Linked DNA regions of Homo sapiens: regions 1 and 2 are each linked to region 3. The links come from fine-mapping of genetic effects on gene expression. A gene starts in region 3. Each other region holds a variant in brackets. All regions are shown on one strand. Distances are from middle to middle.

Region 1 (9,897 bases), 59 kb before region 3:
CATACAAAATGTATTTCATAAAATTCATCTTCCATAAACCTTTTGCAATTTTCTCAAACCTTCTAGAATTTGTTCAAACCTTCAGTTTCGTTCTATACTTCCTCTTTTTTATACTGGAACAACCAATCATTCTAACTTAGGATAAAAATTTACTCTTTTTTCCCTTATAATTTTGGCCACACAAGATTTTCTCATATAAAAAAAAGTTTTATTCTCTTTTTCTTTTCAACTTTCCCTACCAAAGATATAACTTTCTTTGCTTATTTTTTGTCCCATTTACTGGTTCCTTTCTGCCTTGTTTCTATTTCCTTTCAAAATTTGCATTTTCAAGCAACCTTTAAATAACCTCCAAATTAGACAAAATTATTCTTCTTCTAAAAAAAACCCTCATGTCTTTTGTAATTTTTTTACCAAAAATACCAAAAATTGTATCATTATTTTTCATACTTTGTATATAGAGTTACACACATTAATTAGAATTTTTAAATCTTAGTGCCCTTAATTTTTAGTGGAACCTAGGAAGTAAGCAATTTTGAACTGTTATATGATAACATTTTATGAATACATATTTTATAATTTTTCAGAAACGTGCTTCCTCATAGAACAATTTCTCAATGTAGAACAAGACACAATGTTTTCTAATAGACCCAAACAAATTTTATCTTTCCACAGAACTTTCGAAGCCAGGAATAAGCTTACACTTATGTTCAGCGATTAATGTTTTAGTATTTTAACTTGTCTGTGTTACTCCTGAGAAACTTCCTGAGATATTAAGCATCCATCATCTTGAGGTGTTTTCCTATTAACCATTTTTACAGCATGTGACTGTCAGGCGGTCATCTCAAAATCAAGAAACCGAAGCGTTAAACGCACGGCGTTTTGTTTCATTGCTGCGCTTCCTGCGTGAGGAGTAACGGGCGTGCCGCCTCACTTCTGCGGGCACACTTGTTTTTAGGTCAGACTCATGCTTTACAATTAAACATTTAGCAGAGATGAAAGTTGCGTGTCTGCATCATCTTTAACGCTGAGGACTCTGAAGACACCTGCTTTTATCAAACCGGCAAATCTAAACTCACCTTTATTCACCAAAGTTTACCCCAGGTCAAGTGAACTTTAAAAACATTTGGGTTAGTTCCTATTTTTTTTTTTTACAGTTGTAGGTATGCTCATTTATTTCTAAGTCAATTTAAACAATGCCTCTTACTAAGTAGGAAAGACCTTAAAGATCTTTTATTTGCTCCATTTGTAAACAGTCAAGAATCACGCCAATCAAAAAATGTGCACAGCACACAGTCAGCAGTGCTGGGAAAGGATGGCTCGGCTGGCTGAGAAGTTCCCAGGGGGAGAAGCAGAGTCTGGCAGAGAAAACACAGAGCCACCACGAGTTATAGCCTGAGCATCAGCTTCCAGTTAGCCTGACTTCTCATCAGGGAGCTCTAAAGAAAGTCCCTTTTCAAATATCTTATTATCAGCTTTTAACCAGGACAACAGTAAACATTCCCGGTGGTATTGAAGTCTTTCTTTCCTCCCTTCTAGTTCCATTTTAGCTTAGGACAGAAGATCAAACAAACAAAAAGTTCCTATAATGCTCCAAATATTAACCAACTTCCAAACCAAAAGTAAACCTACTTCCGCTGTGATTCAAAACTAGTAAGCCCTGTATGGCTTAACCATGGATGCAAGAGGTCCCCAGAAAGGATGCAAAGGATGTAGCCCCCTTCAGGATCCAAAATTTCTCTTGAAGATAGGCTAAGGAAGTAAAGATGCTCACTGGTAACAAGGTAACCATGGTGAGGCGGTTAAGGTAAGTTCCTGAGAGCAGATGTGGTCGAACAGAGACACTTCATGTTTCGGTCCTGGCCGGTGACCGCCATCAGAAGCATGCCTAGCAACTCGGATCTCCCAGTGGGCAGAGACCGGAGACAGCATCCTCACTGGTTATGACCAAGTTCTCAAGACAGAAAACAGGCCTTAGGGCAAACCCCACAAAAGGCAGAGACAAAGAAAACAGCGGCTATTTCTGGGAAGCTGTGGCCAAAAAGCAACGGGCACCCAGCACCAAATTCACAAGAGTCACCATTTAAAGAACCACTTCTTACAATGTTCTCCTTTCGATCCAAATTTAAAAAGGGACAAGAAAACCTTTTACCTTCTCAACCAGGCATTCCAGGTAGTGGCGTGAGAGAGCTGACTTTGGGAAGAATTCCTGCCTCTGCCCTGTGTCAGGTGTCCTGGAATCCCACCTGCAGGTTCCGGGGAGAGGACAAAGTGGGATATCCCAGCCTTTAGCGTCCCAGTTGGACGCTAGATAGACTAGCAGGAGAGAAGCATCATACAGGTTTTACATAGCATGGGAGCCCCCGTATGGAAATGAAGACCCCAGAGAGGCCGTTATCAATTCACTAAATCATTCCAGGGGGCTTAAAACATACGAGTTATCTAACAAGGTCTGTACAATGTTCTGTCTGCTTCAGCTTCTCATCCTTGAAGATAAGAAGGCTGCCTTTCCTTCCTTCCTTCCTTCCTTCCTTGCTTGCTTGCTTCCTTCCCCCCTATTTATGGTCTCCGATGGGTGTAGAAGTTAATTTCTTGGATGTTTACATTTCAGCTAGGGCTGGTGAGAATAAAAAACCTCCAGGCAGCTTTGAAATCAGTGTGTTTTTTGGTTTTGTTTTAATTATAGTTGTAGCAGTGGGTTTTATCTTATTTGAAAATGACTCATTTTATGAATATCTATAAGTTCACGTTAAGGCTTCAAGTTTCCCCCAAAATATGTTTGGACTTCATTTTAAGTAGACACAGTTTATAAAACAACTATCATTGAAAAGTTGATGAACTTTAAAGTCATTTACATTCACCTACAATTATGCTTTAATTCCTTCTTAATCAAAACTGGCCATTGAAGGAGTCAGGAAGGACCATTCCAGATGATGCTTCTTTAACACAAATATTCTTTTCTGCTAAAAGCAATGAAGAAGTAGCAGAGGAAGGGCTCTATTTTTCCTTCCATCTAAAGAAGGATATTAATTTTCTTAACTGGACACAACTCTTACCAGCACAGAGATGGCAGCAGGGGAATCCTAATTACATCTTACTTCACTCATTTATTCTCATAGTTTTTGCCTCTGGAAGCCAAAAGCTGTTTTCCTTTATAGACGTGAGTTTTTACAAAACAGTTTCAAAATAGCCAGCTAAATGCCAGAAAGTGTTTAGTTTGATAGACAGTCTTTTCAACTTTGCTTGTTTCTTGATTAGATTGCTAACTTCAGGGTAGAGCCCATTAAGGAATAGTGGGGAGAAAACATTTTTTTATGTCTGCAATCAGCATGGGTAGCTTTGAAAAAGAAGCAAGCCTGCTGTTTTTCAAGTGATTCTAACTAAATTGTCAATATGCCAGAATAGCATATTTAATTACTTTATCTCCTTCATCTAGAACTTCCCTAGAGGTTCCATGTGTTAAAAGATGAATTGGTGTTTGTGGAGAAAAGCTGGGGAGCTCTGAATAAAGGGGGTGGGGAGGTCAGCCAGAGAAGGAGGAGGAGGATGTGCTGTGGGAAGGGGAAGGAAGGGCTCTGGGAAGGAGGTGCCTTGGCTGGTGTGGAGACAGTATTTTGCAACGAGGCCTTTTTAAAGTCCTGAATGCACTTTGAAGCCTCAAGATGGCAACTAAAAATACGCGCCTCATTCAGACTGTTTAACCCAATAGCTGCAATTTTCTAATATAGTTCTAGGAAACCAGTCTGGGGAGTTGGAATGATTCTCAAATGGCCACTGGAATTCTAAATCACCCTTGGTGTCATCTGTCCATGGGCTTAAAATGTGCACAAAGGGCCACAATGTTTGAATGTACGACCAGCTGAGCCCCCGAAAGCCGGGCGTGCCTTACACTTTGAGAATCCCATTCTGTCTCCTACTGCACTTTTGAGAGCAAAAAGAAATTCATATAACCGCTGTATGTGATATTTGCTCTTTAAAGATGTTTTGAAACAAGCAGGGAGAGCAGAAGTAAAAAAAGCCAAATCACTTAATCACTTATGGACGCACAGAAACAAACAAACCAGAGCACTCCCCAGGACCAGAAAGGACAACCCGGCCTCACAGGGTCCCAGGACGGACGCAAGGTCCTATATTAAGGTGGCCTGGTCCAAGGCAGATCCCGAGCGAAGTCAAGCTTCTGCCGGAAGGAGGGCTCTCAGCCTGGGAGAAGATGCACGTGGCAGAAGAGGTGGGCCGCAGAAAGGAAGAGCTCAGAGGCCTCAGG[C/T]GGGCACTACACAGCAGTTCCAAGAATTGTCACTTCCTTCTGAAGGCCATCTTCCTTCTGGTCCTATTTCTGGCACCAGATTGTGCCATCCTGAGCAGCAAAGGGAGCGGCTCTCAGGATAAGTGAGTTTATTTGGAACAACACAGAGGCATAAGGACTTTCAGAGCGTCTGTGCAGCCGCTCTTACCACAGACGCACAAGCAGGAGGCTCCCTTCCTCATATCTCCCGTGCGTCTGTGCAGCCGTTCTTACCGCAGACGCACAAGCAGGAGGCTCCCTTCCTCAGGATCTCCCACTCTGCTTTAGGAGAGCAACTGCATCCTGGCATCAGCAACTTCCACAGGCTCTGAGGGATAGCGTCAGAACCAGGCACCGAGCAACCTACTGGGATTCTGGAACAGAAATTATAATAACATGTAACCTTTATAAGATCCCCAAGAGGGTCTGATATATAGCCGAGTTAGGGAAGACTGGAGTAGTGAGTTGAATTATGTCTTCCAAAAATATGTCTAAGTCCTAACCCTATATGGCTTAGCTAGGTCCCCACCCAAATCTCATCTTGAACTGTAGTTCCCATAATCCTCGTGTGTCATGAGAAGTGATTGAATCATGGGGTGGTTCCCCCATGCTGTTCTCATGATAGTGAATGAGTTCTCATGAGATCTGATGGGTCTTTTTTGTTTTGTTTTTGTTTTTTTGAGACGGAGTCTCGCTCTGTCACCCAGGCTGGAGTGCAGTGGCACAATCTCGGCTCACTGCAACCTCCACCTCCTGGGTTCAAGTGACTCTTCTGCCTCAGCCTCCCAAGTAGCTGGGATTACAGGTGCACGCCACCATGCCTGGCTAATTTTTGTACTCTTAGTAGAGACAGGGTGTCACCTTGTTGGCCAGGCTGGTCTCAAACTCCTGACCTTGTGATCTGCCCACCTCAGCCTCACAAAGTGCTGGGATTACAGGCCTGAGCCACCATGCCTAATGGATCTGATGATTTTATAAGGGGCTTTTCCTCCTTTTGCTGGGCACTTCTCCTTCTTGCCGCCATATGAAGAAGGACATGCTTGCTTCCTCTTCTGCCATGATTGTAAGTTTCCTGAGGCCTCTCCAGCCATGCAGAACTGTGAGTCAATTAAACCTCTTTTCCTTATAAGTTACCCAGTCTTGGGTATTTCTTCATAGCACCATGAGAACGCGCTAATACACCTCAGTACTTGTGAATGTGACCTTATTTGGAAATCAGGTCATTGCAGATGTAATTAAGTGAAGGATGTTGAGATGAGATCACACTGGGTTGCCCTGGTGGACCCTAAATCTACTGACTGGTGTCCTTATAAGAGAAAGGAAGAGGGATATTGGCACAGACAGAACAGGAGAAGAGAGAGGAAAGTGGAGAGGGCACATGAACAGAGGCAGAGATGGGAGCAATGCAGGCACAAAAACACAGGCCCAGGGACACCTCGGGACACCAGGAGCTAAGAGAGGCAGGAAGGCTTCTCTCCTCAAGCCTGGGAAGGGAGTGAGGCCACCAACATTTTGATCTCAGATTTCTGGTCTCCAAAAGCGAGAATAAACTCCTGTTGTTTTTTAGAGACGGAGTGATACGGTTTAGATGAGTGCCCTCCACATCTCACGTTGAAATGTGCTCCCCAGTGCTGGAGGTGAGGCCTGGTGGGAAGTGTTGGATCATGGGGGCAGATCCCTCGTGAATGGCTTAGCACCACGGCCTGGGCGATGAGTGAGTTCCTGCTCGGTTGGTTCTCGGGAGAGCTGGTTGTTTAAGAGTCTGCTCCCTCCACCTTCTGGCTCTCACCACGTAATCCTGCCTCCCCACTGCTTCGGTTGTTTAAGAGTCTGCTCCCTCCACCTTCCGGCTCTCACCATGTAATCCTGCCTCCCCACTGCTTCGGTTGTTTAAGAGTCTGCTCCCACCCACCCTCCGGCTCTCACCACGTAATCCTGCCTCCCCACTGCCTTCCACCATGACTGGAAGTTCCCTGAGGCCTCCCCAGAAGCAAAGGCTGGCACTATGCTTCCTGTACAGCCTGCAGAACCATGAGCCAATTAAATCTCTTTCCTTTATGAATTACCCAGCCTCAGTATTTCTTTATAGCAATGCAAGAACAGACTCACATGCAGGATCTCACCCTGTCGCCCAGGCTGGAGTGCAGTGACGCTAAGCTGTGGGCCACATTACCGTATCCCAGACAGCCAGGACTTGGTCAATGACTGTGGCTTCCTGAGTTGGACTCCTCATCGCCTTTCAACTCAAGACCAAGCTGGGAAAGCCACATGTGCTCCATTACCAAGCCCGTAGGCCGCCCCCGCTCCCCAGAGCCACAGCCTCCACCAGGGTACGCCAGGGCTGTCTGTTCCACTGTGAAGCTCCCCAGCCCAGCTGCCTTCAAGTCACTGTCCAACACAAACAATGTGGCCAGGCCCTTGCCCAGCCAGCCCTGGGTGAGCCCTACCTGTGCTCCTGGGGGTCTTTGATGACATCCACTGCCTGGGCCAGCTCCCTCGACACTCTCCACCTCCCGTCCTAGCTGCCCCTCACATCGAGTGCCCCTAGGCACCCCCCAAGAGCTGCAGACCCCTGCCTTCCTTCTCCACATCTGCCCCTCACAGGCTTCCCTGCCACTCTCCCTGCCCTCCACTGCCACTCTCGCCCTGACCCTGCCATGTCTGCCCATCATCCTCACGTGTGCACTGCTGGTGGTGTCTAGGGTCAGGCTTGTCATGTGTGGCCCCTGAAGGCAGACGGTTCAGCAGTTTGCTCACTGTTCTTCCTCATGCCTCAAAGTGTGTACACATGTTCATGGCAGCAGGTACACATGTTCATGGCAGCAGATACACGTATGTTCATGGCAGCAGGTACACATATGTTCATGGTGGCAGATACATGTATGTTCACAGCAGAAGGTGCACGTATGTTCATGGCAGCAGGTACACATATGTTCATGGCAGCAGATACACGTATGTTCATGGCAGCAGGTACACATATGTTCATGGCAGCAGGTACACATATGTTCATGGCAGAAGTTACACATATGTTCATGGCAGCATTATTCACAGCCGACGAAAGGTAGAAACAGCCCAAATGCCTAACAGGTGTGAAAGGAAAACAAACCTTGGGCCCCCAAATTCCTAAGCTAAAGGGAAAATTCTAGCTGGGAACTGCTTAGGGCCAATCTGCCTGCCATTCTCTTCAAAGTCTCCCCTCTGCTCACTGAGATAAATGCATATCTGACTGCCTCCTTTGGAGAGGCTCATCAGAAACTCCAAATAATGCAACCATTTGTCTCTTATCTACCTATGACCTGGAAGCCCCCTCCCTGCTTCCAGTCTTCCCGTCTTTCCAGATCAAACCAATGTTCATCTTACATATGCTGACTGATGTCTCGTGTCTACGATGTATAAAACCAAACTGTGCTCCGACTGCCTTCAGCATGTTATCAGGGCCTCCTGAGGCTGTGAGACCTGTCTCAGTTACTTTAGAAAGTTTATTTTGCCAAGGTTGAGGACACGTACCCATGGGGAGGAGAAAAATGATCCTAAGGGGTAGATGTAAAGAAGTACTGTAAATAACAGGCCAATAGCGTGTCCAATCAATCGGACACCAAGACACTTGATGTCTCCTTTCCGCAAAAACCCTCACCCCAGGCGAACAAAGGGATGGCCACTCTAAGCTTCCTGCAGCGTCAAAAAGATTTCCACCCCCTCCTATCCCTAGAAAGAGGACATGTCGATCCCATTCTTCCCTGGAAAGGGGAGGATCAAGAGGAGGTGGATGCCTGTCCTGCAGCAGGGCAGCCTCCTCCTGTGCATGACCACATCTCACACTCACACCTCTCTCCTCCACACCCCCATGTCTCTCCCCGTTGAACACCCATGTCTCCCTCCCTTGAGCACCTGCCTCTCTGTCCTGCTTGTTCCAGTACTGGGGAGACAGGGAGCCACCAGGCTCTGGATTGGGAGCCCTGGGAAGCCACCCCGAGGGGCAAGACAAGCTTGGGTGAGCCTCAGTGCAACAGAAAGTGCAGTTCACTCTCACCAGGCTCCATCCTCCACCGAGAATGATCAGGCCTCAATCCATTCCTCAGAAGAGGAAACGGTGAGCACTTTATGCTTAAAGACAACATGGCTTGGAACCACCAGGGCACTGCTGTTATGATAATTCACCAGCTTCAGCATTCGGTACACATGACCAGAGTGTGTCAAGAATAAAGACCATGTGACTGATAACAAAGAGGGAAAGAAAGAGCAGAAAGGGACCCACGGATGATCCAAAATGGTGTTGCCAGAGAAGGACCTTAAAGACAGCTGTGATGAATGAGCTCAGTCACAAGAGATGGGAAAATGAGGGATTCCGACAAAGAAATGGAAACGTTAAAATAATAACACAGACGTTCTTGAATTGAAAAGTATGATATCTGAAATTAAGAATGAAATTGGTGGGTTTAATAAAAATTGAACACAGCAGAAGATAGAATTTGTAAACATAAATGCAAGTCATTATAAACTACCTCAACAGAAGTAATAGAAAATACTCAAATGAAAGGAATGGGAAAAAATAAATAGAAAATCCAGAAAGGAAAAAAATAACAGATGAGACATAGTCAATAGGTCTGAGATATGCATAATCCCAGAGAGAGATCAGAGTTAATGGGACAGACGAAATATTTGAAACGATAATGGGTGGGAATCTTTGAAAACTGTTGGAAGACCTTAATCCACAGATTCATGAAGATCAGCAAATCCCAAGGGGGATACATGTAAATCCCACCTTGGAGCACCCTACTAAGAGTAATGAGAGCCAAATACAAAGAGAAAAATCCACAAGCATAGGGGAATTGTCACGTGCCTTTCTCGGTAACTGGGATAACATAAAATTAGTCAGGATAAGGAAGACCTGAGCAACATAATCAACTAGAGCGGCCCAATTGTTCTGCCTCAGACCTTGTATCCAAAATGGCTTGCTTCCTCTTCTTCTTAAGTGTACACATAACATTCACCAAAATTTCCATATGTTGGGACATAGGGAAAGCCTCAAATAATTTCAAAGGATCTAAATTTAAAATTCAGAGCATATTTTCTGACCTCAGTAAACTTAGAAGTGAAAAAAAATACTAAAAAATGCTAAACTTCCTGGAAATTAAAGAATATGCTTCTAAATAATCCAGTGGCCAAAAGAAATCATAGCAGAATTTGGATATGTGTTGAATAAATGGTGATGAAGAAAAGACACATCAAAACTGCAGGATGCAGCTAAGCCAAGAGAAAATTATATTCACTGGAGCCTGCAGGGCAGCCACCCCGGCACAGGAGAGAGAGGACAGCGACGGGCCAGCGGAGACCTCAGGACAGCCCCGGCCTGGGCACATCTGGCTCCTCCCCCCGGCCTGGGCACCTCCGGCTCCTCCCCACAGCCTGGGCACCTCCGGCTCCTCCCTGGGGCCTGGGTACATCTGCTCCAGGCCTTTGCAGACACGGCGGCCGAGCACCCCCGGCCGGGCTGTGCAGCTGAGCACTTGGTCCTCTGCTCTGGGGGACAGTAGCGTGGCTTTTCCCACAGCTGGGGTCCCTGCAGCATCACGGGGCCACAAGTCGGGGTGACCTGCCTGCTGCGGGCTCCCTGGGTC
Region 2 (9,897 bases), 270 kb before region 3:
TGTCTCCCTAAAGTGTATAAAACCAAGCTGTGCCCCGACCACCTTGGGCCCATGTTGTCAGGATCTCCTGAGGAGGCATCACAGGCGCACATCCTCAAGATTGGCAAAATAAACTTTCTAAAAAATCTGAGAGCTGTCTCTGATTTTCAGGGTTCACACATGTAATGTAGGATGTCAATGTTTATAAAAGGGATGTTATTCTATCTACTATTAGAAATATGCTGTCAATTAACCTTAAACTTTCTCAACAAAATAAAAAATGTTGATGAGGTACAAATAATATATCTAGGCTTAAATAGTGTTGCAAATTTTAATATGCCTACTTTTCAATTTTTCAATACTATCTTTACTAATTTAACACTGTAAGAAAAATGAGTAATTAAAACATGAATAAAAGTGTTTACAGTGGATGCACGTTTCCTCCAGCCTCTGCCTATACCCAACTTTCATCCCAACTGTCCTGATGGTGGCTCTAAGCATTTCTCCTTTCTCTATACCAAGATATCTCCCCAGAAACAAACCCAAATCTTACTATATGTTATGGCACGCTATGATGATGAGCAGCGATGAGCAGCCGAAGCCTCAAGGAAGGGATGCTTTTGTAAAACAAGACTTGTGGAATATAACATGTGAAAGTAAAGCCCATGGCAGAGCTCCCTCCTCAGCACACGGGGAGCAGACAGGAAGCTGTTGCCTCACCTTCCTCAATGGCCTGCAGCCACGTCTCCCAGGTCAGTCTTAAGGACAATGAAACTCTGGTCTTCACTGTGGACACGCCACACTACCAGGTGCTCCAAAGCCATGGTGACCCACCCTCGGGTGGGTCCTGAGGAGAACAAAGCTCTGGTTCTAATTCTAACCCTAACCTTGTCCCAAGACTTTGACACTGAACCTAAATCCTGATCCCTATCCTGGTCCCTAATTCTGACCCTTACTTTGACCCTGACTTTGATCTCGACCCTGACCATGACCCCACCTCTAACCATACTTCTGGCCCTGACTCTGACCCAGATCCTAATCCTATCCCTAACCCTATTATTATCTTTACAATCTATGTCTAATCTTACCCTCTAGTGCTAAATAGCTGTACCCAAAAGCACTTTTAAATTATTTAACTTCTTTTCCATGAATTCTCTAAGGACATCCTAAAGGAGATGTCAATATGTATTTTGCATTCCCTCTGAGTGGTATGGCTTCAGATAAGAAGTTCTAATACTTTGCAAGACATAAAAAGTTTGGAGGGTGACAGCACTGGGTTGTTAGGGATGCATGTTGGCATTCGTTGTAGTCATAGGTGCTGTTCTCCAGATATTTTCAGTTCATATTTTATGAATGCATTCTGACTGTTCCATCCCGCCTACTTACATTTTCACATGGCCACATGACTTTTTTTTTTTGCCAATGGAGGTGAGAAGAAATAACATGTGACTTTTTCAGGAGAAATCTCCAAGAAACAGAGTGCTATTCCACATACTTTTTTCTCTTTTCTATAGCAATGGGGATCTTATTGATCGTCCCTCCTTCCGTCTGGATTCCTGTGTTAGGATGACACAGCACAGAGCTACCTCTCACCTGACCCATGATGAAATGTAAATAAATGAGGAAGAAGATTTTTGAGCCACTGAAATTTGGAGGTTGTTTGTCACCACAGTTTAACCTAGCCCCCATTGACTGATGCACGGCTGAAGAATGAGTCCGAACTGGATCTGGACAAGACATGTGAAGAGAGCTCCAGGCTGAGTTAAATTCAAGTGTTTTCTTAAAGATAACAGTGAGCACGATATGTTATTGGGGTGGGTGTGGGATAAATAAGGTATATCAGGTGAGAATAATAAGAAACTCAACTTTAAAAGAAGGTGCTGATTTGGACTGTAGACAGATTCAACTGCCCTGCTTAGCATTTGCGATTGTGATGGATGAACTAATTAAGAGCCCAAAATGAAAGCTTGGGATAAATATCTGAGGGTGTCTAATATCCCAGTTTTTCATCCTAGAATGGGCAGAGTCCTTGACCCCATTCTAGGGAGACTTCCAAAAGAAAAAAGACCTGCATTTCTTCAACAACCCACATAGAGAGACTTTCCTGCACTTTTGACCTGTGGCTAACACTCCTTACCTTTCATTCTGTCATCAGTGTTTTAGGGAAACACCTTTAACTCTCTACGATTTACAGGTTATTAAGTGGCGCTTACAATTCCCTCCAGAGGTGAAAAAGACATAATGATGGTGTCTGAGCTCACAGCAGCAAGCAGGCGTGTGTGCTCAGCAGCCACGTGGCTCATCTGCTAGGAGCTTGCTAAATACGATGTTCTACAACATTGCTTAACACAAGGGGAGACGCTCCTGACTTGGAGAGTTTAATTGCTCACCTACTTCTTTTTCTGCCCTCTTGGGCTTCTAAAATGAAAAGAACCCTGGGGTGATAAAGTGAGTCAAAGGGGTACCAGGTGCATCACAGCAAAATAGATTCCTAAAAAATCCCTGGCCTAAGATGATACCCTTGGCTGGATACGTTTGAATGTGCTGATAGTGGACATGGTAGAGTGAAGGTGGTTGAAATGTTCATATTAAAGAACTTCCACCCAGATTGCAAGAAAAGAGAGAGGAATGGAGATGGCAGCACGAGTCCCTACAATAAAAGCAGATGTTTTGAGACCGGTTATATTTCTTCCGACAAAAATTAAAGACAGAAACCAAAGTTTAGCCTGAGGCTACAATTAATTGGGCAATAAGCCGAAGGCACATATGGCATAGACAGATTTAAACATTTCTCCCTTATATTAATACAAATACTAAAATTACAAATACTTTGATTCCAAATAAAACAAATATTTAAAAAATTTAATGAATAAACACTGGGGTCTACAGTAGTATTTGAAGGAGATCTCACAAACAGGTTTGGTTTTTGAAGGTTAGAACTGGTGGTCTAGAGAATTCATTTCATTCCAGAGAGAGAAAGAGAGGAATTTCTTGGGTTCCTTCAGGAATGTGTCTAGCTTTGCCTCATGTTTGTTTGAACGATGGATACGGCAGAAGAAAGCATGAGGATTTCACAGATTTAAGGTGCAAAAAGTCACTGGGTTCTCTAAGAAGTCTGGGATTCTTCTGCTGCAAAAATAAGTTTGTTGAGAAAAAATGAGTTGGAGGAGGCTGTTATTGAAGTGAAGCAGAATTGTTTTTACTAATCTGCTTATTACCCACTCTGCAGTGTGGAAACAAATTATTCATGCACAAGGTCCTCTTACTGTTCCTAGAATGCAGTGGAAAGAGAACAGATTAGTTTTTCTCACTCAGAACACAACCCCTAGAAACATCCTACCTCAGATGAGATATTGCCTAATTATTTTCAAAGGACAGTGAAAAATTATGGATGTAATGTTTGCTGCAAAATTAATACATGCTAGAAACAGAAGCATCTGGGTCACAGCTATATTAGAGCTATCTGTGTTCCCCTGTCACTGAGATTAAAACAAAAATGTCCAATACAATCACTCACAGCATGGGAGAGGGGAAGTTGAAGGATGGAAAGGCCAGGCATAAAAGGATTTCAGAATTTCCGTCCATAAGGAAGTAGCTTTGTGCATTGTCTGTTACTGTGTGCAAGGTGAAGTTTGGAGAATGAAAACGTGCAGTAACAACGGCTCCTTTGTCCCTCTCACCTCTCCAGATACCAAGTTTCAGACATGTTGCATTTTAGTTGAAAGGTTGATATAATTTTTTTTAAAGAACACTTGCGGTGTTTGAAGTGACAAAGGCTGCTGTGACAAAAAAGCAGGGAAAGGGATTTTTTTTAAAAAGCAAACAACAACAACAAAAACCCCACAGAAAAGCAAACAACAAACAAACAAAAAACAGAGGAAGAAGTTGAACACCCTGGGCTGTGACTACTTCCAGGAAGGGGCTACAAGAGGCAGTTGGAAATTCTATTTGCTTTGCAACTGTGGGTCTTCCAGCCTGCTTCCTTTCTAAAGTATATTACTCTGCTTTTGGTTCATGAAATTATCCATTTCTGTTTTCTGGAACAGCTATGTATTTTCTTTATCTATCATCTATCTATCTACCTGCCTATCATCTATCTATCTATTTACTATCTATCTTTTCTACCTTTCGCTATCAAGAGCTTGGGTCAAGCAGGATAGAATTCCAGTGTATATTCACTCTACCATTTAAAACAAGAGCTCTTGTAGGCATTCTCCATCACATCATAAACCTGAGCTTTCTAAAACAGGGTGTGGCAAACTACCATGCATGGACCAGGTCTGACACAGTCTGCGTTTGTAAGTAAAGTTGTAATGGGACACAGCCA[A/G]TACATGTGTTAAAAAACGTCTCTGGTTACTTTCATGGTATAATGGAAGACCTGAGTCATTAAGAGAGAGACCATATGGCTTGGAAAACTTAAAATATTTAACATTTAGCCCTTTGCAGAAAATATTTGCTGACTCTTGTTTTAAGAGATCTCTGTTTAGAATGCTACCTATTGCCTTCTGGATAGAATCACAACTCTTTACCACGATCAACACAGCTTCAGCCCTGCTTCTATATCCAGCCTCATCTATTTCTGCTCCTCCTCCTTATTTTCCTTCCGGACATGCTGATGAATTGTCAGCTTCCCAGATGTGTGAGAATCTCTCCTCCCTTCCCAGCATTCTCATGCTCTCCCTCTGCCTCTCAAGAACTTCCTGCCCCATCTCTCATGACAAATCCCTTCTTCATTCTTTAAGATGCAGCCCCTTTGCTCCTTCCTTAAAGATGTCTATCTGGCTCTATTTTGGGTGACATGCTCCTTCTGCATCTCCCAGAGCCACCCTGTGTGTGTCAGCTACAGCATTTCTTTGCATCTCTGTGTCATATATCACCAAATCTGCCTAACCTTGAGTGAGTCACTGCATGACAACTTCAGACTCCACCAGCATTGTCCCCACCAATCAATTATTTTCAACCATTTAAAAATGTAAAAATCATTCTTGCTTCATGGGCCATACAGAAACAGATGGTGGGCAGAGTTGGCCCAGGGGCAGACCACTGTTTGCTGACCACTGCCACACTGTCTTAATCAAGGCAGCTTTTATGGTGAGCCATGGTATCTAGTAATTTCTCCCATTTTTGTCCCTTTTAAGGGCCCTTACTTGGCCCTTTGCATTTCCATATAAATTTTATAATTAATTTGCAGATGTCCACAAAAAAGCCTATTAGAATTTTAATGGGACAGCTAATGCTAGAAGGGTAATTTTAGGAGAAACAAGAGATGCTTATAAGTTGTGTGTGTGTGTGTGTGAGAGAGAGAGAGAGAGACACAGAGAGAGAGAAAGAGACAGAGAGAGAGAGAGACAGACAGAGACAGAGAGAGACAGGGTTTCACTCTTGCCCAGGCTGGAATGCAACGGTGCAATCATGGCTCACTGTAGCCTCGACCTCCTAGGCTTAAGCAATCCTCCCACATCAGCCTTCCAAGGAGCCAAGACTACAAATGTATACCAACACACCTACCTAATTTTTTTGACTTTTAGTAGAGATGGGGTTTCACCATGTTGCCCAGGCTGGTCTCAAATTCCTGGGCTCAAGTGATCCACCCACCTTGGCCTCCCAAAGTACTGGGATTATGGGTATGAGCCACCATGCCTGGCCTTTTAAAAAAGTTTGAGACAGGGTCTCACTCTGTCACCCAGGGTGGAGTGCAGTGGTGTGATCATGGCTCACTGTAGCCTCAACCTCCTGGCTCAAGTGATCCTACCACCTCAGTCTTCCATGTAGCTGGGACTACAGCTGCGTGCCACCACATCTGGCTCATTTTTTTTTTCTTTTTTAAGTAGAGACAGGGACTTGCTATGTTGCCCAGGCTAGTCTCAAACTCCTAAGCACAAGCGATCCTCCCGCCTCGGCCCCTGAAAGTGCTGGGATTGCAGGCATGAGCCACCACACCCGGCCAAAAGTTGCTTTTGAGGAGTTATTGCTGTGTGGATGTGATATAACCCTTTCTGTCATCTCTTCACAAAACTTTCTGTAAAACATAAAAATCACCTGGACCTTCAGAGATGAGTTTGTTTATTTTTTTATTTTTTTAAAAATTGCTAATTCACAGAACATGGAGATGAGTATGTTTTGAAGGCTTGGAAGCATGCAAGTGGGAGAAGAAAGGAGTCAGCTACATTCTGGCTGTGTGCAGAGGCAGGTCACTGTGGTGGGAGTGTTCCTGTCTCATGGACTCTGCAAATCACAATGCTTGGCATGGCCTCCCGACCCTGATGGCAGAGAAGCAAACACCAGTCGGAGAGCTGGGGTCCTCCCAGCCCTCTTGGCCCTGTGGCCAATTTTTTCTCCAATAGCCTCATAAAATCACATTATTTGAGTGTCCATGGCTCCAAAACAAGCAGGGATGCCCATGGACCCTGATTATCCATTGTCACCCTTCCCTCCAAACAGCCACCTCTCCCCTGGAGACAGCCCCATACTCCACTCAGACCTGTGCACTTCCTGGTATCCTTGTCACCTGCTTTTTATGTCTCATTTTACAAACACCAAATTGGAAGACAGCAGGAGCTGCCCCATAATACCAGTAAAGTGAGAAGCAGAGATAAACTAGTCCTAGACAGCCGACTCATGTTGGGGGCAGCCCACTCACAGTGGCCCTGACCCAACTCTGACTAGAGGCCACTTGCTCTCAACACCAGGGTGCTCAATGGTCCATCCTGGTACTCTGCTCTTCTCTCTCCACCTTCGCTTTCCTGCAGTCTATGCAGCCTGTGACTCCATCCATGGGCTAGTGACCCCCAGACCTTTTCCTGGGACCACAGGCCTGTGTCTCTATCAGCTGCTCAATACCTCCCCTCGAACATCCATGGCTAACACTGAGCTCCTGATACTCTCTCCCTACCCGCTTCTCTGTGGATTCCCCACCTCCACGAAGGACAGCTTCATCCTTTCAGCTACTCAGGCCAGAAGACTGAAGTCATCTCCTTCTCCAGGAAATCGTATTGGGGGAGCTACAAATATCCAAAATCCGATCGCTTCTCCTCCACTACACCCGAGGCCCGCCACCCATTTTTGCCTGAATTGCTGCAGCAGCCTCCTAACCGATCTCTGCTTTCACGTGGGCACCTCAGTTTTTTCCAGAACAACAACCAGAGAGATCTGCTCACACCCAAGTCAGACCAGGTTACTCCTCTGCTCTCATAGCATTTGGAGGAAAACCCAGAGTGCTCGTGTTGGCCGGCAGAGCCAGCCCCCATCTCCTCTGACCTCCTCCCCACCTCTTGCCCTCAGCACCCAGAGTGCTCGTGTTGGCCAGCAAAGCCGGCCCCCATCTCCTCTGACCTCCCACCTCTCGCCCTCTGCACCCAGAGTGCTCGTGACGGCCAGCAGAGCCAGCCCCCATCTCCTCTGACCTCCCACCTCTCGCCCTCAGCACCCAGAGTGCTCGTGTTGGCCAGCAAAGCCGGCCCCCATCTCCTCTGACCTCCCACCTCTCGCCCTCTGCACCCAGAGTGCTCGTGACGGCCAGCAGAGCCGGCCCCCATCTCCTCTGACCTCCCACCTCTCTCCCTCAGCTAGTCCTCGAACATGTCTGATGTGGTCCCACCTTGGGACCCACATTGCTACTCCTCTGCCTGTAGGGGTACCCACAGTTATCCACACAGTTCACTCCTGTCTTTCAGGTCTTTGTGCAAATATCACCTTCTCAGTGGAGACTACACCTTCAGGACTTAGGCTGTGCCTGGCACATAGTAGGTGCTCTGTAGACACTGGTTGTAGGAAGGAATCTACAGGTTGAAATAAGGAGATCATTTCCCTGAGGTTCCGAAGCTCATATTTACTCACCATTTGTTGTTTACTGCTAATATTGAGCACTATCAGTAAAATACATAAAACCCTTTGCCAATCCAGGAAATGAAAATGACACTTTACTGTTTTAGTTTGCATTTCTCTGCTTACAAATGGATTACACGCATTTTCATGTGCTGTTGGCTACTTATTCATTCAGAAAACATACTAAGTGCTGGCTCTTTTTCATGTCCTTTATCAAGTTTGGATCATGTCATTTGCTGTTTTCTTTCTGATGTAAACTCTCAAAGTTTGAAGGGTATTGTCTTTTCCTGACACATACATTGTAAATAATTTTCTGGCTTACATTTTGACTTTTAATTTCATTCACGATGTTTTTAATGAATAATTTTAATTTTTATGAATGCAAGTTAAAATAATTCTTTCATTGTGGTTTCTGACATGTCATGCCAATAAGGGTCTTCTCCTCCAAGAGCACAGAAATATTTGCCAATACTGTCCTTAAAATCGGTCACAGTTTCATTTTTTATATATGCATTTTACTTCAATTGGGGCTTCATTTTACTGAATGCCCTATTTGAAGCAAGTTTCTCAGTTAATTCTTTTCTCAAAGTGCTAAGTATGGTAGATTGCAAACATAAGTGGCCACATAATACTCCCACCTCCTTGGCCTCCTCTCCCAGGAGGAGATAGCCTCCATCTTTCCACTCCTTAATCTGGGCTTGGCCATGTGACTTACACTGGCCAATGGGATATTAACAAGTCTGATGTGCACAGAGGCTGTAGAATGTGCACTGGGGCTTGGTCTCTCTTGCTGCCCTGGAGACCAGCTGCCCCACGAAGGAAACAGAGCCAACCTGCTGCTTCCTGGGGGGAGACAGTCCCTCAGTCCCTCTGTCTCTGCCAACCAGTTAACCTGCTGCTTCCTGGAGGAAGACAGTCCCTCAGTCCCTCTGTCTCTGCCAACCAGTTAACCTGCTGCTTCCTGGAGGAAGACAGTCCCTCTGTCCCTCTGTCTCTGCCAACCAGTTAACCTGCTGCTTCCTGGAGGAAGACAGTCCCTCAGTCCCTCTGTCTCTGCCAACCAGTTAACCTGCTGCTTCCTGGAGGAAGACAGTCCCTCTGTCCCTCTGTCTCTGCCAACCAGTTAACCTGCTGCTTCCTGGAGGAAGACAGTCCCTCAGTCCCTCTGTCTCTGCCAACCAGTTAACCTGCTGCTTCCTGGAGGAAGACAGCCCCTCTGTCCCTCTGTCTCTGCCAACCAGTTAACCTGCTGCTTCCTGGAGGAAGACAGTCCCTCTGTCCCTCTGTCTCTGCCAACCAGTTAACCTGCTGCTTCCTGGAGGAAGACAGTCACTCTGTCTCTGCCAACCCAGTTGACCGCAGACATGCAGGTCTGCTCAGGTAAGACCAGCACAGTCCCTGCCCTGTGAGCCAAACCAAATGGTCCAGCCACAGAATCGTGAGCAAATAAGTGATGCTTAAGTCACTAAGATTTGGGCAAAAGCTGAGCATTTATCCCAATCCCAATACTGTTTGTCCTTCTGTTTATCTGTCTGTCCTTCTCTGCTCATTTAAAATGCCCCCACTGCATCTAGTACATTTTTATAGGATCAGGGATCTGCTCTTGGATTTATGTCATGTTCCCACCTCGAGGCAGCTTTGTAAGCTTCTGAGCACTTCCCAATTCCGGGTGACTTCAGGCGCTGGGAGCCCTGTGCATCAGCTGCTGCTGTCTGTAGCTGAGTTCCTTCACCCCTCTGCTGTCCTCAGCTCCTTCGACCCTGGGCCTCAGGAAATCAATGTCATGCTGACATCACTCTAGATCTAAAACTTGGGTTCTTGGACCAGGTGCGGTGGCTCACATCTGTAATCCCAGCAATTTGGGAGGCCGAGGCGGGTGGATCACAAGGTCAGGAGATCAAGACGATCCTGGCTAACACGGTGAAACCCCGTCTCTACTAAAAATACAAAAAAATTAGCCGGGTTTGGTGGCAGGTGCCTGTAGCCCCAGCTACTCGGGAGGCTGAGGCAGGAGAATGGCGTGAACCTGGGAGGTGGAGCTTGCAGTGAGCCAAGATCACGCCACTGCACTCCAGACTGGGAGAGAGAGCGAGA
Region 3 (9,897 bases):
GGCCTGGCACCCTCCCCACATGTGTCCTTGGGGCACGCCAGACCAGACGGCACCTCAAGGCTTCCCAGCGCACACCTCACCGTCCAGACACCCTCAGTCATTGCCAAGCTGTGCTCCTAATAGCTTAGAAAATATGGTATTCAGGAAAAAGATTCCTCTGCAGGTGGCTCTGGTCAGGAAATTGATCATGAAACCACCACCTTCCCACTCGGTGCCGTCTAATCTGAGAGCCCCGTGTGCCTCCTGAGTGTAGAGGAGAATGTCTTCACCCTTCCCAGCAGCCACTCAGCTCCTGCCTGCTGCGATGGAGGACGTCCCTGAATGGCTCCCTCCCCGCCCCCATCTGAGGGCTCCTCAAAAGCAGGGTTTCGCCCCCACCCTGGAATCCCAGACACCCACTGCAGCCCCCGCAGGCCCCCAGGAAGTGCGGGATCCCCCTCGCTGCTGGGATTCTAGTACAATGCTGTGTCCGGCCCACATGGGGGAGCCGGCTCAGTGGCTTTTTTTTAGGTGAAATAGTAGTTAGTCAACACCTTAAAATCTGGATATGCTTCCTAAAAATTCAGATTTGAGGCATCTATGGAAAAAGTTTGCCCAGAGCAGCTGTGAGCTCAGCACCAGCCGCCCGTGGACATGGCGGCACCTCACTTTGCCACAGACCCCACCACTCCCTGTTGCCCTCCCCAGCGCTGAGCCAGATGGATAAGGACTCTGCAGCTAAAGTGCATTCCTAGAACACCTGGCTCAGGCAAAGTCCCAGCCCCAGATATGGCTCCAGAGGTAATCCCTGCCTCCCTGCCTCCCAGGTCAGCTCCTGGCCCAGCTGCTGACCCCCAAGGCCTCACGAGGTTGGTGCGAAGCTGCCTTCTCTGCGGGGCCTTCTGGGACACCCCCTGCCACCTTGTGCTTTGTGGCAGGGGGTCTGCAGCTACAGGGGCGTCTGTTCCCCCATGGCTCATTCACTCAGACCAAACATTGCTGTAGCCCAGGGACCCCTCGGGAGGGCGTGGACACTAGCGGGCAACACTGTGTACCCATCAAGCTGGGCATGGGGAGGGCAGCTGGGGGGAGTCTGAGCTGCTGGGGCCTGGGATGCCGCTTCAGTAGGGCGTCCACACTGGGCCAGGCATGGGCCCGAGTCCCATGAGAACTTGTGGCCTGTCCAGTGTGTGGAGCTTCGACGGGGCACCATGGACGGGAAAGACACCCCCTCACCACGCTGGGACTCACCCCTTCCCTACACTAGGACTTGCTCCTCCCCTCCCCACACAGGGACTTGGGCTCCACCATCTGTCCTGATGACTCCAGGCACCAAGGACCTTGTCTGCTGAGAGGGCTCAGACAGGAGGTGGGCCGGGCGGCAATGTGCGCGGGGGCAGGCGTGTCCCCGGCACCAAGAGGTCACAGTGGAGCTGAGCAGGTGCAGCCTCCGCACTCGGGCCTCAGCCTTGCGGCCCAGGAGAACAGAGTCAAAGACAGGCGTCCCCGGAGCACGGGACTTTCCAGGCTGCTCTGTCCGGGAGACAGAGCCTGCAGACCCCTCCTCACGCCCGCTCCAGGAAGAGGAGGAAGCCTGGGCCTCCTCTCCAAGCACAGAGAGGCCCCAAGCAGGGGCGGGGCAAGGAGGGTGCTGGTCTCTCTAGCGTTTTGTGAAGGGAGCAGCACTCGCGGTGAGCTGGGCGCGGGGCCCACCGCGCCGTCCTTGTCCCCTGCCACCATCTGCCGGTGCAGCCGAGCGGGCGGCGAGGAGGGTCCTTGGGGAGAAGCAGAGACCGCCCCATGCAGGCGTCTCACCGCGGACATGGGCGAGCGCTTCAGTTAGGAACATTTTTCCTTACAAAGGATGTCATGACTGTGGCTCACTAATTAGTAGTTAATAGAACCCAGTTCAAAAATGACTCCATAATGTGATCACCGGGCCCCTTGCAGATGGCCCAGCCGTAGTGGGCACCCCCTTCTCAAGGGAGGGCGGCCCCTGGGAGCCAGCAGGCCTCATGCGGAGCAGCCGCCACCAGCCTCGGGAGCCCTGGGCCTGAGTGTAACCGAGTTCACCTTCATGGCAGATTTCGGGGAAGGGCCCTGGGCCTGGCCCCTGGGCTCGGGGACGGCGCCCGCGTGCCACCGTGAGTGCAGGGCCAGGATGCTTCAGGAGCTGTCCTTTAGGTGCGTGGAGGCCCCGAGTGGCCGTGCAAGGGGACACAGTGCTCAGCACTTGCCAACTCCCGGGCAGACCGGGCCTGGGTCCAGGTTCTCAGGTCCAGCGTCCGGTGGCCCCGACTCCCTGGGCTCCCGGGAGGCACGAAGGACAGAGCTGGGTGATGCCGCACACGGGGAAGGCTCAGCCTGTGCTGCTGCTGCGACTGTGAGGACGCCGGCTTCACCGTCACAGAGCCCAGGTACAGGGGCGCAGGACGGGGCTGGCACAGGAGGCTTGGAGGCGGCGTTCCGGGCTGGCAGGCGGAGGGGAGGCGGCGGCGGAGGGGAGGCGGCGGCGGAGGGGAGGCGGCGGCGGAGGGGAGGCGGCGGCGGAGGGGAGGCGGCGGCGGAGGGGAGGCGGCGGCGGAGGGGAGGCGGCAGGCGGGACTCCTGGGCTGGAAGGCGGCTGAGCCCGGTAGCTGGAGCCCGGCAGCCTGGACGACCGCCTCTGATGGGGTGGGGGTGGCGGGTGCAGGAAAGTCCACTCAGAACCTCCGTGGTGCTACAGGGTTGTCTGGAGCCCACTGCACTGGGATAGCTCAGGAAAGAGGAAGAAACGCAAACGCCTCAGCCTGCGGCAAATGCATTCTCCCAAATTCCTCCTCCGCTCTGGCTGACTGCAGATAGTGCACACTTGACCTACAAACTCCGAAACACGGGGAGATCAGAATGCGCTCCCTGCCGCCTTGCTGCTCCATCAGGCACGGCCAGCACGGTGGCGCCCTGCCGTCCCTCCGCACACACGTCAGAAGGAAGGGGCCTGGAAGGACAAGTTTTGAAGTGTAGGCCGGTGTTGTGATTGCTGGTTGGTTTGGCCTCTCGGCTCCAGGGCAGGTGGGGAATCCCCGGGGCGCTCGCGCATAGGACCTGGGGAGACCACCACGGGCTTTACAAAAACGCAGTCCTGCTGGAGACGCCTCTCCTGGGGCTATTCCTTTCCGTTTTTAGGTGGCTTCCTCCCATCGGTGCTGCACGCAGCGGTTTTTCTGAAGCAGCTGCTGGTTCTCACCGGCGTCTTCCACCCGCGCTGCCTGAGCACCGTCTTTCCACCTTGTGCATTCTGTGCGCTGCGGCATGTCCCGGCGCGTCCTGAGGCCTAACCCCAGTTCGCAGGGAGCCACAGATCAAGGTGTCCTGAGCACACGCCAGGACTCGGGAAATCACGAACAGCTCCCAATCCACTGATGACACCCACAGAACTCCAGTTTAAAAAAAAACAACTGTGAAGGATAATATAAAAAATAAGTGTACCGTCTGCTTTATGATAGTAAACGAAAATTTCCCAAAAGCTTTCACCTGAAACTATCAATGACTTGGAAACCTCATAAAGAAGCAAGTGACCCGGGAGACTGAAACGAGATCACGGAGGCTGGCCCTGGGCCGGCCCTGCTGCCGGCTCCCTGAGGCCTGGAGGGATGGATCCTGGGAGAGGAACCCCGTCCAGGACAAAGCCTGGGGGCTTCACTTTGTGCATCTACCTGATGGCACCAGGGCGGCGGCTGGGACAGTGTTTCTGGGTGCGGCTGGGAGGGTGTTTCCGGACGCGGTGACCCCCGTGTGCTGGGCGTCATCCAATCCTCTGACGGCCTGAAGGTGCCGCGGTGGAGGAAGGAGGAATCGCTCCTGCTCGCCTGCCTTCCTTCCTGCTTGCTCCAGGACGCCTCATCTCACCGTCTCTGGACCAAGGTCTGGAATTTACACCAACCTCCCTCAGAGTCGGGTTGACTGACACCGCAGGCTTTCCTGGGTCCCAGATGGCAGATCCCGAGACCTCTCAGCGCCTGTCACCGCGAGAGCCAGCTCCTCACAATAAATACGTAAACCCATGTATGGGTGGGGCAGAGAGACCCTAAGCATTTCCACACCTGCCTTGAGTGTGTCTGCATCGTCGTTTTGTGATATACATTTCGCCTGCAGTAAGTGCAAAGGCCACCATTCCTGAGACGCAGGCCTGGGCAAAACCCAGGACTCCTAGGTGCCCCGACGCCCCTCCCCAGACAATGCTCCCTCCCACCCACAAGGTTTCCTGGGAGCAGCCGTCGAAAGAAGAAAAAAACAGTCCCGATGGGGGCTGAGGGCAGAGGAGGCCCAGCTGGCCGTCCTCCAGATTCCCATGCTGCCAACAGCTGCCCTCCGGACGGACAGCTCTGCCAGGGACGGTGCCCAGACAGAGGGCAGCGCGTCTTTCTGGGACTGAACCGACGCCAAGCATGCGTGTCACTGAGCCCATGTAACAGAGAGCGGCAGGCGAGATACAGGCGTGCACCCCGGAGAGGACAGGCTGAGGACCCTCAACAGAGACAGGAAAACCTGCCCGTCACTGAGAAATGGTTGGAAAAGTAAGCTCTCTGTGATGTGACAGGCGCTGTCCTTGCTTGAGAGATTGGCGCTGCATTTGGGGGCCCCCAAAAGGTGAACAGAGTATGTGACATATCTGGCACAAGACGTGAGCCCACCCGCATTTCGCTGGGGGAACTGAACTTTGTAATTTTGTTTTCCCACTGGGATTCCTGCTGTCAACACCTTTGGTGGGGGGAGAGTGTCTCCATCACCTGCCTCACAACACGCACCCCTTTGTGTGTCTGTTGTTGTCATTGTTGTTTTGTTTTGTTGCTGTTGTTGTTGTTTATGAGATGGAGTCTCGCTCTGTCGCCCAGGCTGGAGTGCAGTGGCATGATCGCGGCTCACTGCAACCTCCGCCTCCCGGGTTCACGCCATTCTCCTGCCTTAGCCTTCCGAGTAGCTGGGACTACAGGCGCCCACCACGACGCCCGGCTAATTTTTTGTATTTTTAGTGAAGACGGGGTTTCACCGTGTTAGTCAGGCTGGTCTGGATCTCCTGACCTCGTGATCCGCCCGCCTCGGCCTCCCACAGTGCTGGGATTCCAGGCCTGAGCCACCGCGCCCGGCCGCGTGTCTGTTTCTTCTGTCTGCTGGTTTGCTGGTTCTCCCTTTTGCTGCTGGTTTGTTTTTGTCCCATGAGGGTTTAAAGGGCTGCCTTTGGGGGCTAAGTGTCCTAAGAGCAGAAGCTCTAACGCCCACGCTGCTCTCTGAAGCCCCTGCCAAGAACAGCCAGGTCTCAGCTGTCAGATGTTTTCCAGCTGTTACTCGGTTTGAATCTGACACCAGCCCCAGCTTCACTCCGGGAGGCGTCTGCCCAGACACCAGAGGAGGTGCGAAGTTCCGGGGAAGCAGCTGGGCCCGGCCCTGACTGGTGGGTTCCGTGCATCCCACCCTCCTCATTGGATGAGTTTTCACTCACTGAATTCGCGCCAGCGTCCTCAGCACAGGCAGGCGTGGCTGAGTTCAGTCCCTTCATGATCAACTTTGCATGTCTAAGTTTCTGGAACAAAGGGCGTGGCATCGATGGGCGATTTCTGTGGCCCTCCAGGGGCAGCTCCCCAGCAAAGCGCCCAGCACCCACATCACAACAGGCTGCGCAGGCCACAGCGCCCGCGCCTCTGCAGCTGGAAGCCCCCAGCCAGGGGTCACATCAAGCTCCTCGAAGGAGTCCCCAGCACCTGTTCATTGCAACCTGAGCCGAGCTCCAGAAGGCACCCTTACCCTCTCCACCTGAAGCAGGTGATGTGTTTGCAGGAAACGAGCCCGCGGGTCTCAGCTGCCTGGTTTTCCTCTCGGGCCGCGCTCCTGCCACCCTGTGTTCTTCCCCAGCAAGAGAGAAGAGTGGGGGGCGGGGAAAGAGAAATGCCTCCAAGGCCAAGCAAGGCCAAGCTGAAGAACAAAGTGCCCCAAGGGAGCCAGCCAGGGCTGCAGAAATGGCTCTGCCCACCCCATAGGCCCCGAGGAGCTGGCCGGACAGCGGCTTAGGGGCTCAGGCAGCCCCAGAACAGTGGATGCCTCATTCATTCCGAGACCCACCGCCTTGCACCCCGAAACGTGGCCCTGGCTCCCTTGTGTAAACCCCATCCTCAAGCACAGAGCAGGGCCATCTACGGAGACCTGGAGCCAGGCCAGGGCAGGCACAGCCCAGGGACCCAGGCTCCACGCGTCCCAGGGAGAGCTGACCCAGAGCCGGGCTCCCACTGCTGGGTGAAATCGGGAGGAGGGCTCCAGAAAAGGGGCTGCTGCTGTCGACACTTTCCCTTTGTCACGGACATTCTTTTTTTGTTTGTTTGTTTGTTTGTTTGTTTGAGACGGAGTCTGTCACCCAGGCTGGAGTGCAGTGCTGCAATCTCATCTCACTGCAACCTCCACCTCCCGGGTTCAAGCGATTCTCCTGCCTCAGCCTCCAGAGTAGCTAGGATTACAGGCACCCACCACCAATCCCGGCTAATTTTTGTATTTTTAGTAGAGACAGGGTTTCACCATGTTGGCCAGGCTGGTCTCTTAACTCCTGAGCTCAAGTGATCTGCCAGCCTTGACCTCCCAAAGTGCTGGGATTACAGGCGTGAGCCACCACGCCCGGCCTTGGACATTCTTGATGGCTGTAGATTGATATTCTAAGATTGCTGGTGTCCCGTAGATGCACGAGTCCAAAATAATTGGAAAGTAAACATTTCAGTCAGCCTCACTTTAGCATATTACATCAAATAGCAGAGCTGAAGTTTTTCAGTGTAACCTGCCACATTTAACCCCACTGCTGGGTTTACATATTTCAAACCAAAAGGTACCCAATAACCAGGTGTCGAGAGAGGCCAACTGAGCTGGGCACGCTGGCTCACACCTGTAGTCCCAGCACTTTGGGAGGCTGAGCCAGGAAGACTGCTTGAGCCCAGGAGCTCAAGACCGGCCTGGGCAACATAGTGAGACCCAATCTCTACAAGATATACAAAAATTAGCTGGGCATGGTGGTGCACACCTATAGTCCCAGCTACTCAGGAAGCTGAGGTGGGACAATCACTTGAGTTCAGGCGGTCAAGGCTGCAGTGAGGGGAGATCGCACCACTGCATTGCAGCCTGGGTGATGGGAATGAGACCCTGTCTCAAAAACAAGGGATGGACTCACCTGGCACAGAAGCCACAGCCCCATCCAAGAAACGCTCACCTCGCTGGTGGGACTGCAGATCACCCACACTAACACACAGAGAGTTAGAAGTGCATCATTGCTTAGATTTTAAAATGACTAAAAGCCCAAAATGGAATTTGCCCTCCATTTCTACTTCTGCCAACCCAGGAGACTGCTCCAGAAGGTGGAGCCGGTAGAGCGTTTAGGAGCCGGTCAGGAGCCACCTGAGGCCTGAGTCTCAGAGGGCAGCCTCCGCCATCCCCCACGAACCAGGAAGGCGGGGACCACGATGCTGCAGGCTGAGCCAGCTCCTCTGCCATCCGGGTGCTGGAGCACAAACTCGTCAATGGGAATGGCATAAGGTGACTGAGCTCTTCTCCACTTTTTATTTTCCAGAACATGAGTAAAAGCCTCACTCTTAAGAATCCTGGAAGAGTAGCATACGATTCAGGCGGGATAAAGATGTTTTGGGAGAAAAAAATCGAGCATCACGCAAGACACCTGCAGAACGAGGACATCAGGGTTCGCAGAAGCGCTCTGAACAAGTGAGTCGGGGTGTGCAGTGCATCGGGGACCCCTATGCCTGAGCCACGCTCGCCACCCAGGGGCACAGCCCCGCCAGCAGTGTGCCCTGACACAGCCCTGGCCCTCAGCCCACCATGAAACCCCTCAGCTCCAGGCCTGTGAAAGGAGTCAACCCAGGAGGAAACTGACAGCCATTCACTCACCTTAGTGATCACGCTTGGAACAGTAGGTGGGAAATGACAAGACACCACGTTGCTAACCGTGAGACCAGGAGCTCAGATCAAACATCACTATCCAGGCAACACCACACCCCAATGCCCACGGACAATTCACCCCCACCCCCACACCCACACCCCTTCACCCACACCCCAACACCCACACCCCCACACCCACACACCCACACCCCAACACCCACACCCCCTTCACCCACACCCCAACACCCACACCCCAACACCCACACCCCTTCACCCACACCCCAACACACACACCCCCAACACCCACACCCCAACACCCACACCCCTTCACCCACACCCCAACACCCACACCCCTTCACCCACACCCCTTCACCCACACCCCAACACCCACACCCCCACACCCACACCCCTTCACCCACACCCCAACACCCACACCCCCACACCCACACCCCAACACACACACCCCAACACCCACACCCCAACACCCACACCCCAACACCCACACCCCCTTCACCCACACCCCCTTCCCCCGCCATCTCCCTGACACTCCGTCCAGGATCACAGGAACTTTTCCAGGAGGAAATGTCTTTCTCTGGCTTGTTTTTCTGAGATCACTGCCCTTGAGTGACGTATCTGTACTTGTGCCCTTCCTCCTCCTAGCAGACTTGCTCAGGAAGGCAGATACCAAGCCAGCACGCCTTTCTCTCCTAGGGCCAAGGCCAGGGGTCTATGGGTGCTGAGTGGGTGACCCTGAGCCGACCCAGGGTGTAGCCACTGCTCAGGGACAGCTGGGTGGGGAGCAGAGCTCATTTGCTGCAAGACACTGGCCGGCACACAGCAGGAGCTTCCAGAGGCTCCAGGCAGCCCTCGGTGCTCAGGCCCCGAGCAAGAGAGCCGTGGTACCCCTTCAGCAGCCCGAGGCGGTCCCACAGAGCCTGGGGGTGCCCCTCCCCACTCACCAGCTACCCAACTACGGACATGGACCCAGCACAGAGCCCAGCACCACGCAGGCACTCGGCAGACGATGGTGAAGGAGAGGCCCCCCCCCACCACCGAGTGCTTGCCCCACGGGCCCTGCCTCATCCCCGCCCTGTGCTTCCTGGACGTGTGCCTGTGTGTGCCTACGTGCCTCCGCGTGCCTCTGCGTGTGCCTGCATGTGCCATGTGCCCTGGTGTCCTCTGGCCATTGCCTGGGTGCAGATCCCAGGAGTGGGCTCAGGCCCCGGGACTGTGTGTCCACGCTGCCTTCTCTGGCCCCTGAGGTGGAGGTTGGTGTCCAAGGCAGGCACCAGCGTTCTCTCAGGGGCTGGCAGAGCCTCCATTTGCACAACCCCCCTCCATCCACCCACACAGCCCGGTTCTCCCCAGGCCACGAGGCCAACCACTGCTTTTAAGGAGGTCACTCTTAGGGTTCCCGTTAGAGAGTAGCCTAACTTTCCTCCCCGCATGAAGCCCAGAGAGCTGAGAGGGTCCCGTGTGCTGGTGTGAGCCCAAGGGCCAGGCCCACCCCAGGAAGCCGCCGTGAGAGAGGAGCTGGCCCATGTGGGAGACCGGCCATTCGCAGCCCCTGGCTCGGGACCCCACGGTCCCCTGTAAAGGGACAGGGGCCGCTGCTTCCACCACCATGGGGCTGGCTGTCCTGGCAGCCTCTCTGGGATGGGCGGCCGGCTGTGAGGGCCGAGGACTCCAGGCCCGGAGGCGCCAAGTCTGTGGGACCGTGGCAGCTGCTGACATCCTGCCCAGCTGACCCTCTCATGCATGGAGCTGCCCTGGGCCCCACCAGTCAGCAGCCATGGCCTGGCAAGGGTGAACATAGCTGTTGCTCGGGGACCATCACCGTGGGGCCCAGCCGTCCGGGGTACACTGCCTGCCACTCAGCAGCACCATCGTCATCTGGGTCCTGGGCATCTGTGACAAGTGTCCTCATGGACACAGCTCACCCTTGGCTGGAGCCGGGCACCCACCCCACTCTCCAACTTCTAAAGCCAAAAGCACTTGAGGCTGAAGGAAGCGGCA

Direction of the effects. Positions count from the first base shown, and alleles are read on the strand shown. Sizes are in standard deviations (SD) of each study's normalised expression. Not every link is listed here.
As copies of G replace A in region 2, the expression in putamen of the gene that starts at base 4,429 in region 3 goes down (moderate effect, 0.73 SD a copy in GTEx).

Evidence for each region.
Region 1: its variant is fine-mapped to the expression of FAM240C in substantia nigra (GTEx, PIP above 0.99).
Region 2: its variant is fine-mapped to the expression of FAM240C in putamen (GTEx, PIP 0.97).

The regions. Positions count from the first base shown.
Region 1 is chr2:241,953,615-241,963,511 of GRCh38, reverse strand. The region is part of intron 2 of LINC01237 (long intergenic non-protein coding RNA 1237); the gene reads right to left. Among named protein-coding and RNA genes, the nearest start is that of LINC01238, 12 kb to the left of the region's middle. The variant C/T (reference allele first, on the strand shown) is at 4,262.
Region 2 is chr2:242,160,398-242,170,294 of GRCh38, reverse strand. LINC01881 (long intergenic non-protein coding RNA 1881) reads right to left here. Exons shown (of 7, transcript NR_130702.1): 7 at 9,792-9,897. Among named protein-coding and RNA genes, the nearest start is that of LINC01881, 77 kb to the right of the region's middle. The variant A/G (reference allele first, on the strand shown) is at 4,307.
Region 3 is chr2:241,894,996-241,904,892 of GRCh38, reverse strand. It overlaps FAM240C (family with sequence similarity 240 member C), which reads left to right and starts at 4,429. Exons shown (of 3, transcript NM_001382368.1): 1 at 4,429-4,535; 2 at 7,559-7,707. The coding sequence starts at 4,524. All of the region lies in intron 2 of LINC01237 (long intergenic non-protein coding RNA 1237), which reads right to left. RefSeq lists enhancers at 3,024-3,669, 3,670-4,313, 4,314-4,958.